2 separate regions of the Homo sapiens genome follow, and region 2 is linked to region 1. Evidence: fine-mapped expression QTL. A gene starts in region 1. The other region holds a variant in brackets. All regions are shown on one strand. Distances are between the middles of the regions.

Region 1 (5,000 bases):
TATACCAGAAAGGAGATTCTTACATCTTGACCATTTATTTATAATATTTATCGAATACCAAATGCCATGTACTAGGTACTGTGGATAACAGAAACATTAAAAATGTGGATCCTGCCCTCGAGGTAAAGATTAAGTGCCGATGCTTTATTTGGGAGGTACAAATTCAGGACAGCCAGAGTGAAGAAAGCTGGAAGGAAGTTAGGTAGAGAAGGATGTGAAGTAATACATGGTGATGTGTTACCTTGCTGTCCCCTCCTTGAAAATGAGCCACAAGAGACACAGCAGCTTTTTCAGCAGGCACACTCCCTCAGTCTTGCCTGTCTCCAGACACACTGGAGAAACCATCCTTGGAAGGAAGAAGAAAAGGGAATTTAAGTATTGTGCTCGGTCAGTCCACTGGTTTCAATTGGTGAAAGTTACTCCATGGGGAGTGACCCCCCCACCCTCCCAGCATGCATTACCGAGGCCCTAGCAGCCTCTGAGAAGTCAGCTCCTGCATTGTTCAGAAGTGGCAGGAGAAGCCAGAGATTCCGGAAATGCAACTGGTGAGCCCCAAAAAGAGCAAGTGATTATGGGTACAGAAAGCAAACAAAGTGAAGGAAATCTGAGGAAGTACATGAAATATATCCATTACACAAGACATAAGCACCTGAAGATAGAAATCAAAATACAGGAGTTCAATAGTAAAACTGCAATAAAAATCAGTATCACTGGGCAATATATGACTGGGTGAGTTTAGAAAAGGGGCATTACTGGTGGTGGGGAGTGCATTAAATTGCACATAAAAGTGCACTCTGGAAGAAGTGAATTAATTTTTTTTTTTTTCGAGACGGAGTCTTGCTCTGTCAACCCAGGCTGGAGTGCAGTGGTGCAATCTGGCCTCACTGCAACCTCTGCCTCCCGGGTTCAAGCAATTCTTCTGCCTCAGCCTCCCGACTAGCTGGGATTACAGGCACCTGCCACCATGCCCAGCTAATTTTTGTATTTTTAGTAGAGACTGAGTTTCAACATGTTGGTCAGGCTGGTCTCGAACTCCTGACCTTGTGATCCGCCCTCCTTGGCCTCCCAAAGTGCTGGGATTACAGGCATGAGCCACCGTGCCTGGCCCAACTGCATTAAATTGGTGTTTGAAGTAGGCACAGCCACAAAGCAACCCATTTAGGATGAACCGAGAAAGCAATGTCATGAAAGCAAAACGTTTGGATGACAGAGAATAAATCATAGTTGCATGTTTAAAAGAATAATGGGAGATTCGATGGGAAAAGCAGGTTGTGGACATATTAGGAAGCCTGAAGGCCAGGTGCAGTGGCTCACGCCTGTAATCCCAGCACTTTGGAAGGCCAAGGCCGGTGGATCACCTGAGGTCAGGAGTTCGAGACCAGCATGGCCAACATGGTGAAACCCCATCTCTACTAAGAATACAAAAATTTGCCAGGCGTGGTATTACAATGCACGTGGTATTACAAGGCACGCGCCTGTAATTGCAGCTACTCGGGAGGCTGAGGCATGAGAATCGCTTGAACCCAGGAGGTGGAGGTTGCAGTAAGCTGAGATCAAACCACTGCACTCCAACCTGGGCAACAGAATGAGGAGCCATCTCAAAAAAACAAACAAACGAACAAAAAACAAGCCTGAAATTCCAAGCTAAGGTACTGTTACTGTAGACAACCAGATGACAGTCCCAGGTTTCTTTTTTTTTTCTTTTTTTTGAGACAGGGTCTTGCCCTGTCACCCAGGCTGGGGTGCAGTGGTACGATCACTGTTCACTGCAGCCTTGACCTCCTGGGCTCAAGTGATCCTCCCACCTCAGCCACCAGAGTAGCTGAGAGTATAAGTGTGAGCCAGCACACCGAGTTAATTTTTTTATTTTTTGTAGAGACAGGGTCTCACTATGTTGCCCAGGCTGGACCTGAACTCCTGGGCTCCACTGATCTTCCCGCCTTGGCCTTCCAAAGTGCTGGGACTACAGGTGTGAGCTATCACAGACAATAACAGGTTTCTGAACCCACATTGAAATGAAAGTTCCCAAAGACTTCTACCAACGACCGATGTCTCCTCGTTGTTCTCAACCTGGAAACCATCCCCTACCCAGCCTGAATGCTCTCAGCAGCCTCAAAACAACTTAAAGGCTGCTTTCACGCACAGTGATTTTCTTTTCTCTTCCTTCACACTGATTGATTCCCTCAAAAAATGCAGGTCCGGAGCTGGCTATGGAGTTGCAAGCTCTAGACCCAGCTACTCCAGAGGCTGAGGCGAAAGAATCCCTGGAACCCTGGAGTTGTAGTCCAGCCTGGATAAAACAGTGAGACCCCAATTCTTTTATCTATTTATTTATTTGTATTTTTTGAGGTGGAATTTTGCTCTGTCCCCCAGGCTGGAGTGCAGTGGCACAATCTCGGCTCACTGCAGCCTCTGCCTCCCAGGTTTAGCGATTCTCCTGTCTCAGCCTCCTGAGTAGCTGGAATTGCAGGAGCTTGTCACAATGCCCAGCTAATTTTTGTATTTTTAGTAAGGACGGGGGTTTCACCATGTTGGCCAGGCTGGTCTTGAACTCCTGACCTCAGGTGATCCGCCCGCCTCGGCCTCCCGAAGTGCTGGGATTACAGGCGTGAGCCACCGCACCCGGCCTTGTTTGGCTGTTGATTTTGTTTTGAGGTTTCCCTTTTTCTACCCAGAAACCAAGAAACCAGGGGTGTCTGAGGCCTCGCAGAAATCTCAGGGAAAGGTCAGGCTCCACCCAGGCTGCACTAGGCGGGGCTGCGACGCCAGGGCGGGACCGTCTCCGGCTGGGAGGGAGGGCGGGCGGCGCGCAGACCCCGGAAGTCCCGCCCCGGGAACGTTCGCCCTTGGGCAGTTTTCTGGGTGGGAAGTGCGATTTTGGCGGGCGGTTGTGACGTTGCTAGCGCTTGTCCGGTGGCTGCTGCGCTGCCGCAACGAATAGGGTTTCTGGCTGCGTAGGAGGGACGGGGGCGCGGAGCTCTGGGAAACTGCGCCAGGCGCCCGAAAGGTGAACACGGGAGTCGCGCGTCTCCCCCGCAGCAGCGGTAAAGCGGAAGTTATGCTGCAGCCGGAGCCCGGGCTTCCTCCCGGAGCCGCGTCCCGGGGCCCGGCTGCCCCGAGCTGAGCGGAGCATCCTTTCCGGGTGAGGGGAGGAGAGGACTTGGCGCGTTCCCCTCGCTGCCCCGGGAGCCGCAGCCGCGGTGTTCATGCCGCGGAGCAGCCAGGCTCCTCCGACGAAAACCTGCATTTATTTGCTGGCGGGACGTTTGCCTTGAAAATGGACAAAGACGCCGCCCTCCGGGGTATTCCTGTTTGCCTGACCCTGAGAGCGCCTTTTTGCTTCAAGACGTGTTGGATGCTCCTGTTCTCCGAATTCTGATACGCTTCTGGGCATAATACTGAAACACAAAACTGCTTTTGCTCTCTCTGTGGTTGGCCGAAAATAGGATTCTTTTTCGTGCAGGTGTCGTTGTTTAGTCGGCTTTACTAACATATTGAAATGGCTCTACCCAAAGACGCCATCCCCTCGCTGTCCGAGTGCCAGTGCGGGATCTGCATGGAAATCCTCGTGGAGCCCGTCACCCTCCCGTGTAACCACACGCTGTGTAAACCGTGCTTCCAGTCGACCGTCGAAAAGGCGAGTTTATGCTGTCCCTTCTGTCGCCGCCGGGTATCGTCGTGGACTCGGTACCATACCCGAAGAAATTCTCTCGTCAACGTGGAACTGTGGACGATAATTCAAAAACACTATCCCAGGGAGTGCAAGCTTAGAGCGTCTGGCCAAGAATCAGAGGAAGTGGGTGAGTAAACCATGGCGTGTTTGTTGGCCAAAAGCCGCAAGTCTTTGAAAAGGTGAATCATCACTTTTCCATTTAAAAAGTAAAAACAAACCAAAAAACCCGACTAGTATTTGTCTAAATAGTTCTCAGAGGTTAGGGGGTTTATGGGTCCCCAAATGTCGATGGATTATAAAGTCAAGGGCAAGATTTTGTCCATTGTCAAAATGCCCGCGCTGTGTTCGATGGGTGTTTGTTGTGTTAAAAATTAAAGAATTGCCCGTCTGGAGCCTTCTTTTTTTTTTTTTTGAGACAGGATCTCGCTCCGTCCTCCAGGCTGGAGTGCAGTGGCGCGATCTCGGCTCCCTGCAACCTCCGCCTCCCGGTTTCAAGCGATTCTCCTGCCTCAGCCTCCCGAGTAGCTGGGGTTACACGCGTGCACCATCACGCCCGGGGAATTTTTCTGTTTTTTAGTAGAGACGGGATTTCACCATGTTGGCCAGGCTGATCTCAAACTCCTGACCTCAAGGGATCCGCCCGCCTCGGCCTGCCAAAATGCTGGGATTACAGGCTTGAGCCACCGCGCCCGGCCTCTGATTTACTTATCTATACATCTCCATTCATTTAATTCTTGATTCTCCTAATCATGCGACGAGGCTAAAGTCGCTTTTTTATCACTCAACCCTGCACCCGGTAGACTCAGGAGCCCCAAACTGAACCCTTGACTCTTTCCTCCACTAATGTGAGCAATAAGCCGGGCGGTGGTTCCTGTCTGGGCTTAGGATATGGTGTCTCCGTTCTCTCGTGGACAGGTCTTTTTTTTTTTTTTTTTTTTTTTTTTTCTAATTTTTTTTGGTCACAGTTATATGTGTACCTGCCTTTTAAACATACGTTTATTTTATTGTAAAAAAATGCCATTTTAAACATTTTTAAACAATAGTTAAAAGAAAAAGCTTTATTCAAATGCTCGCAGACCATACAATTCACCTACTAAAAGTGTGCGGTTGGCCGGGAGCGATGGCTCACAGCTGTAATCCCAGCGCTTTGGGAGGCGGAGGTGGGAGGATCTCTTGAACCCAGGAGTTGAGGCCGGTCTGGGTAACATAAATTCAGTAAAATGTTTAAAAGTGTGCAATTTAATGGTTTTTGGTATATTGCGTTATTTTTAAAATATTGTCCAAAATGTATATAACAAACTGACATTTTAACCATTTTTAAGTACAA
Region 2 (5,489 bases), 31 kb after region 1:
CCTAGTTTAAAGCATCATTTTCATTACTTTTGGGAAGACTATAGAGTCTTGCATTGTTTTGATGCTATCTGCTTTTTTAAGCTTTTTTCAAGAATTAAGAAATATTTACGCTGGGCGCAGTGGCTCACGGCTGTAATCCCAGCACTTTGGGAGGCTGAGACAGGCGGATCACCTGAGCGTCAGGAGTTCGAGACCAGCCTGACCAACATGGTGAAACCCGTCTCTACTAAAAATACAAAAATTAGCCGGGCGTGGTGGCGGGCGCCTGTAATCCCAGCTACTCAGGAGGCTAAGGCAGAAAAATCGCTTAAACCCGGGAGGCGGAGGTTGCAGTGAGCTGAGATCGCGCCACTGCACTCCAGCCTGGGCGACAGAGGGAGACTCCGTCTCAAAAAAAAGAAAAGAAAAAAAAATATTTAGCCGGGCTCAGTGGCTCACGCCTGTAATCCCAGCACTTTGGGAGGCCAAGGCAGGCGGATCACGAGGTCAGGAGATCGAGACCATCCTGGCTAACACGGTGAAACCTCGTCTCTACTAAAAATACAAAATATTAGCCGGGCGTGGTGGTGGGCGCCTGTAGTCCCAGCTACTTGGGAGGCTGAGGCAGGAGAATGGCGTGAACTCGGGAGGCGGAGCTTGCAGTGAGCGGAGATCACACCACTGCACTCCAGCCTGGGTGACAGAGCGAGACTCTATCTCAAAAAAAAAAAAAAAAGAAAAAATATTTAGATTTGACTTTTACTTCCTTTTCTGTTTTTCACTAAAATATCAATACTCAATCATTTAAGTTTTGTCCTGGAATTGACCAAAATATCTGAAGCACGGAAATGAGATACACTCTGATAAAACAGCCAAGCAGCAAACCAGACAACCTTCGGTATAAATAGCTTTATTATGTTGGGTACATACCATCTGTCTTTGAAAGCATTGAAACTTTGGTAAACTTTTCTTTTAGGTATTTGACACCGAAATCTCAGTTTGGGTCAGCCTCACACTCTGAAGCTGTACAAGAAGTCAGGAAAGACTCCGTATCTAAGGTATGTTGATACTGAAGATGTTCTGAGTTTTGCTGGTTCATTAATGCTGTAGATTAGTGCTATCCATAGTTTTCTACCTTTTAACAAAAGCCCCTATAGTTAATCAAACACCCTGTCTGAGTCCTCTTAGGCTCACCTAGAGAAAAAGCACTTTTTCTCCAAAGGAAACTACAATTTTTTAAATAAACATACTACAAAAAGCAAAGTTTTTCTCTAAGAGAGTGAATATTTTCGCCTTTGCAGTTAGTGTGATCTGTGTCACAGCTTCTCAGCTACGCTGGTGTAGTGTGAAAGCATCTATAGATAATATGTAAACACATCAGCTTGAATGCATTCCAGTAAAACTTTGTTTACAAAAACAGGCAGGAGGCTGGATTTGGTCCATGAGCCATAGATTACTGATCCTTGACCTATGTAATCCAAACTCACAAAACTGAATAGGTTATACCTGGCACCAGCTTCACTTAGAATGTTACAAGATGGAGCTGAATGCGGTGGCTCACGCCTGTAATCCCAGCACTTTGGGAGACTGAGGCAGGTGGATTATCTGAGGTCAGGGGTTCGAGATCAGCCTGACCAACATGGAGAAACCCCATCTCTACAAAAAAATACAAAATTAGCCGGGTGTGGTGGCGCATGCCTGTAATCCCAGCTACTTGGGAGGCTGAGGCAGGAGAATTGCTTGAACCCGGGAGGTAGAGGTTGCGGTGAGCTGAGATCGTGCCGTTGCCCTCCAGCCTGGACAACAAGAGTGAAACTCTGTTTCAAAAAAAAAAAAAAAAAGAATATTACAAGATGGGAGGCCAAGCACGGTGGCTCAGGCCTGTAATCCTAGCACTTTGAGAGGCTGAGGCAGGCAGAAAGTTGGGAGTTCGAGACCAGCCTGGCCAATGTGGTGAAACCCCATCTCTACTAAAAATACCAAAAAAAAAAAAAAAATTAGCCAGGTGTGGCACATACCTGTAGTCCCTGCTACTCAGGAGGCTGAGGCAGGAGTATTGCTTGAACCCGGAAGGCGGAGGTTGCAGTGAGCTGAGATGTCGCCATTGCACTCCAGCCTGGATGACAGAGTGAGACTCCACCTCAAAAAAAAAAAAAAAAAAAAATTGCAAGATGAGAAAAAGTATGCTAGTAAGGCAGCATCAGGCATGTGTGTTCAGCAGGAGTCCTCAGCAGCAGAGCTCCAAGGTGATAGCCTGGAAAAAGGCCACACAAGTGAGTGTATTAACTACTTTGAGACCACATGCCCTGTAAGGGTCAATTATTTCTTATAACAAACAATGGGTCTAGCTTCCAGGGGTCTTGGTGAGAAATACACCCAGTCAAGTTACTTATAGAAGTAACTTATAGAAGTCCCAAGCTTTATCTTCCAAACACTAGGTATTTTTTTTT[TG/G]CTTGTTTGTTTTGTTTTGTTTATTTTTTGAGAGAGAATCCATCGTCCAGGCTGGAGTACAGTGGATGCTCGGTGCATCCTCAGCTTCCCTGGTAGCTGGGACTACAGGCTTATACCCCCACGCCCGGCTAATTTTTGTATTTTTAGTAGAGATGGGGTTTCATCATGTTGGCCAGGCTGGTCTCAAACTCCTGACCTCAGGTGAGCTGTCCGCCTCAGCCTCCGGAAGTGCTGTGATTACAGGCATGAGCCACCGTGCCCAGCCATGTTACAGATATCTTTAAATATCATTTATACTTATCTCTACATTGGTATTAGACTGCAGTTGTGCCTTGTGGCAAAACAGAGAGTGGGTGTACTACATCAGGGGTGACACAGATAATTGGGTATTATGAGTTATTAGACTGGCTGGTAGATCCTATTATTTACTGTATTATAGATGCACATTATTACCTCACATTTTTTTGAACCTTTTAATGATTGTGTTTACAACATAAATTGTTCCTTTTGTAAAGCTACTGTATATCTTAATTTTTTAGTTAAAAACATTATTCTCAGAAGTGGTCTGTAAGCTTCACCTAAATGCCAAAAGGAGGGTCCACGGTAGAGAAAAGAGTTAAAAACCCCTATGCTGGCAGACCTTTGTAAGGTGAAAGAAGGTCAGGTCCTGATACCAGCTATTGGCCATATTTGGAATCTAGTCTGTGGGTTTTAATCTGTAGGTTTTCATGGGAGTGAAAATGAAGTAATAGCTTAATCTAAATTTGCCCATGAAATAAAAATACTATTAAGAATAAATATACACCTATTTGGGAGGCTGAGGCAGGAGAATCACTTGAACCTGGGAGGTGAAGGTTGCAGTGAGCTGAGACCGCGCCACTGCACTCCAGCCTGGGCGACAGAGCAAGACTCTGAAAAAAAAAGAAAAGAAAGAAAGAAATATATACCTTATTAGTAATAATAATGTATAGTGACAGTCCAGCTGTAGTATCAGTGTAATTAGACTTACATCTTATGATTTGATATTTTCCCCTGGTTCACTCAGTCTTTTTCTGTTTTCTACAGGACATTGACAGTAGTGATAGGAAAAGCCCAACAGGGCAAGACACAGAAATAGAAGATATGCCGACACTTTCTCCACAGATATCCCTTGGAGTTGGAGAACAAGGTGCAGATTCTTCAATAGAGTCCCCTATGCCATGGTTATGTGCCTGTGGTGCCGAATGGTACCATGAAGGAAACGTCAAAACAAGACCAAGCAATCATGGGAAAGAGTTATGTGTCTTAAGTCACGAGCGACCTAAAACCAGAGTTCCCTACTCGAAAGAAACTGCAGTTATGCCTTGTGGCAGAACAGAAAGTGGGTGCGCCCCCACATCAGGGGTGACACAGACAAATGGAAACAACACAGGTGAGACAGAAAATGAAGAGTCGTGCCTACTGATCAGTAAGGAGATTTCCAAAAGAAAAAACCAAGAATCTTCCTTTGAAGCAGTCAAGGATCCATGCTTTTCTGCAAAAAGAAGAAAAGTGTCCCCCGAATCTTCCCCAGATCAAGAGGAAACAGAAATAAACTTTACCCAAAAACTGATAGATTTGGAGCATCTACTGTTTGAGAGACATAAACAAGAAGAACAGGACAGGTTATTGGCATTACAACTTCAGAAGGAGGTGGATAAAGAGCAAATGGTGCCAAACCGGCAAAAAGGATCCCCAGATGAGTATCACTTACGCGCTACATCCTCCCCTCCAGACAAAGTGCTAAATGGACAGAGGAAGAATCCCAAAGATGGGAACTTCAAAAGGCAAACTCACACAAAGCATCCAACACCAGAGAGAGGCTCAAGGGACAAAAATAGGCAAGTGTCTTTAAAGATGCAGTTGAAGCAGTCAGTTAATAGAAGAAAGATGCCAAATTCTACTAGAGATCACTGTAAGGTATCCAAAAGTGCTCACTCCCTACAGCCTAGCATTTCACAGAAAAGTGTTTTTCAGATGTTTCAGAGATGCACAAAGTAAGGCCTGGTAAAGGGAGTGCTTTGTGATCTAGTAAAGCTGGAATGTGAAGCTCTTTCCTATCATGGAATCTTCATCCATGTGTCATTCATGCTGCTCTCTAGGCACACTCATTGTCCTTAATGAAGGTCTGTGTGATTGTAAGGACTGCATAGACACATGAGCTTCTGCACAGCTCAGCGGTAAGCAGGGGTCCCCTGTCGTTTCCCTTCTTAATAACAGATGTGTATTAAGCTTTACAATTCTTAGAGATATCTTAAGCTTTGGCCAACTCCAGGAAATCTTCAAGTGCCATTGTCTTTCCAAAAACTGCATGTTTTATGGCCTTTGCTCACCTTTTTGTCGTGACTGGTAATCAAAGCAAGATTATACTATTCTGAGTGATTAAGGAACCCATGCAGGGTTTAAAATCCATTTTCTTGCTATTGTCCAATGTTTACAGAGTACTCAAAAGGTTTTCCTAAAGTAATCTAATTTCCATCTCCAATTTAATTCAATTTTCAGCATTGTAGCATTTCCTTTGGTGTTTGTTTTTTTTTTTTAGACGGAGTTTCAAAATTTGGATTCATATTCATATGTGGGAAATCCCAGATTTTTTTTTTTTTTTTTTTTTTTTTTTTTTTTTGGAGACAGAGTCTTGCTCTGTCACGCAGGCTGGTGTGCAATGGCGCGATCTCAGCTCACTGCAACCTCCGCCTCCCGAGTTCAAGCGATTCTTCTGCCTCAGCCTCCCGAGTAGCTGGGATCATAGGCATGTGCCACTACACCCAGCTACCCAGCTAATTTTTTTTTTTTTTTGTACTTTTAGTAGAGATGGGATTTCACCATGTTGGCCAGGCTGGTCTTGAACTCCTGTCCTCAGGTGATCCACCTGCTTCGGCCTCCCAGAGTGCTGGGATTATAGGCGTGAGCCACCACGCCCGGCCTGTTTCCTTTGGTTTAAAGTGGATTCGAATCAGTGTTAAATCAGAAAATCAGGGTTTTCTAGGAAATTGGGAATTAGTTGCCAGAAAGGAAACTGAACTATGCAGAAGGAGTTAAGA

Evidence for each region. PIP is the estimated chance that this variant, and not a neighbour inherited with it, causes the effect.
Region 2: its variant is the best candidate, but not a certain one, in a credible set for the expression of RNF168 in whole blood (INTERVAL, PIP 0.75).

The regions. Positions count from the first base shown.
Region 1 is chr3:196,501,673-196,506,672 of GRCh38, reverse strand. It overlaps RNF168 (ring finger protein 168), which reads left to right and starts at 2,905. Exons shown (of 6, transcript NM_152617.4): 1 at 2,905-3,800. The coding sequence starts at 3,500. It overlaps LOC105374306 (a long non-coding RNA gene), which reads left to right and starts at 4,621. Exons shown (of 2, transcript XR_924896.3): 1 at 4,621-5,000. LOC105374307 (a long non-coding RNA gene) reads right to left here and starts at 1,321. Exons shown (of 3, transcript XR_924897.3): 1 at 462-1,321; 2 at 242-346. RefSeq lists a silencer at 2,656-2,955 and enhancers at 3,576-3,665, 3,706-3,775, 3,427-4,110, 4,111-4,795.
Region 2 is chr3:196,470,779-196,476,267 of GRCh38, reverse strand. RNF168 (ring finger protein 168) reads left to right here. Exons shown (of 6, transcript NM_152617.4): 5 at 956-1,037; 6 at 3,496-5,489. The coding sequence ends at 4,449. Among named protein-coding and RNA genes, the nearest start is that of RNF168, 30 kb to the left of the region's middle. The variant TG/G (reference allele first, on the strand shown) is at 2,430.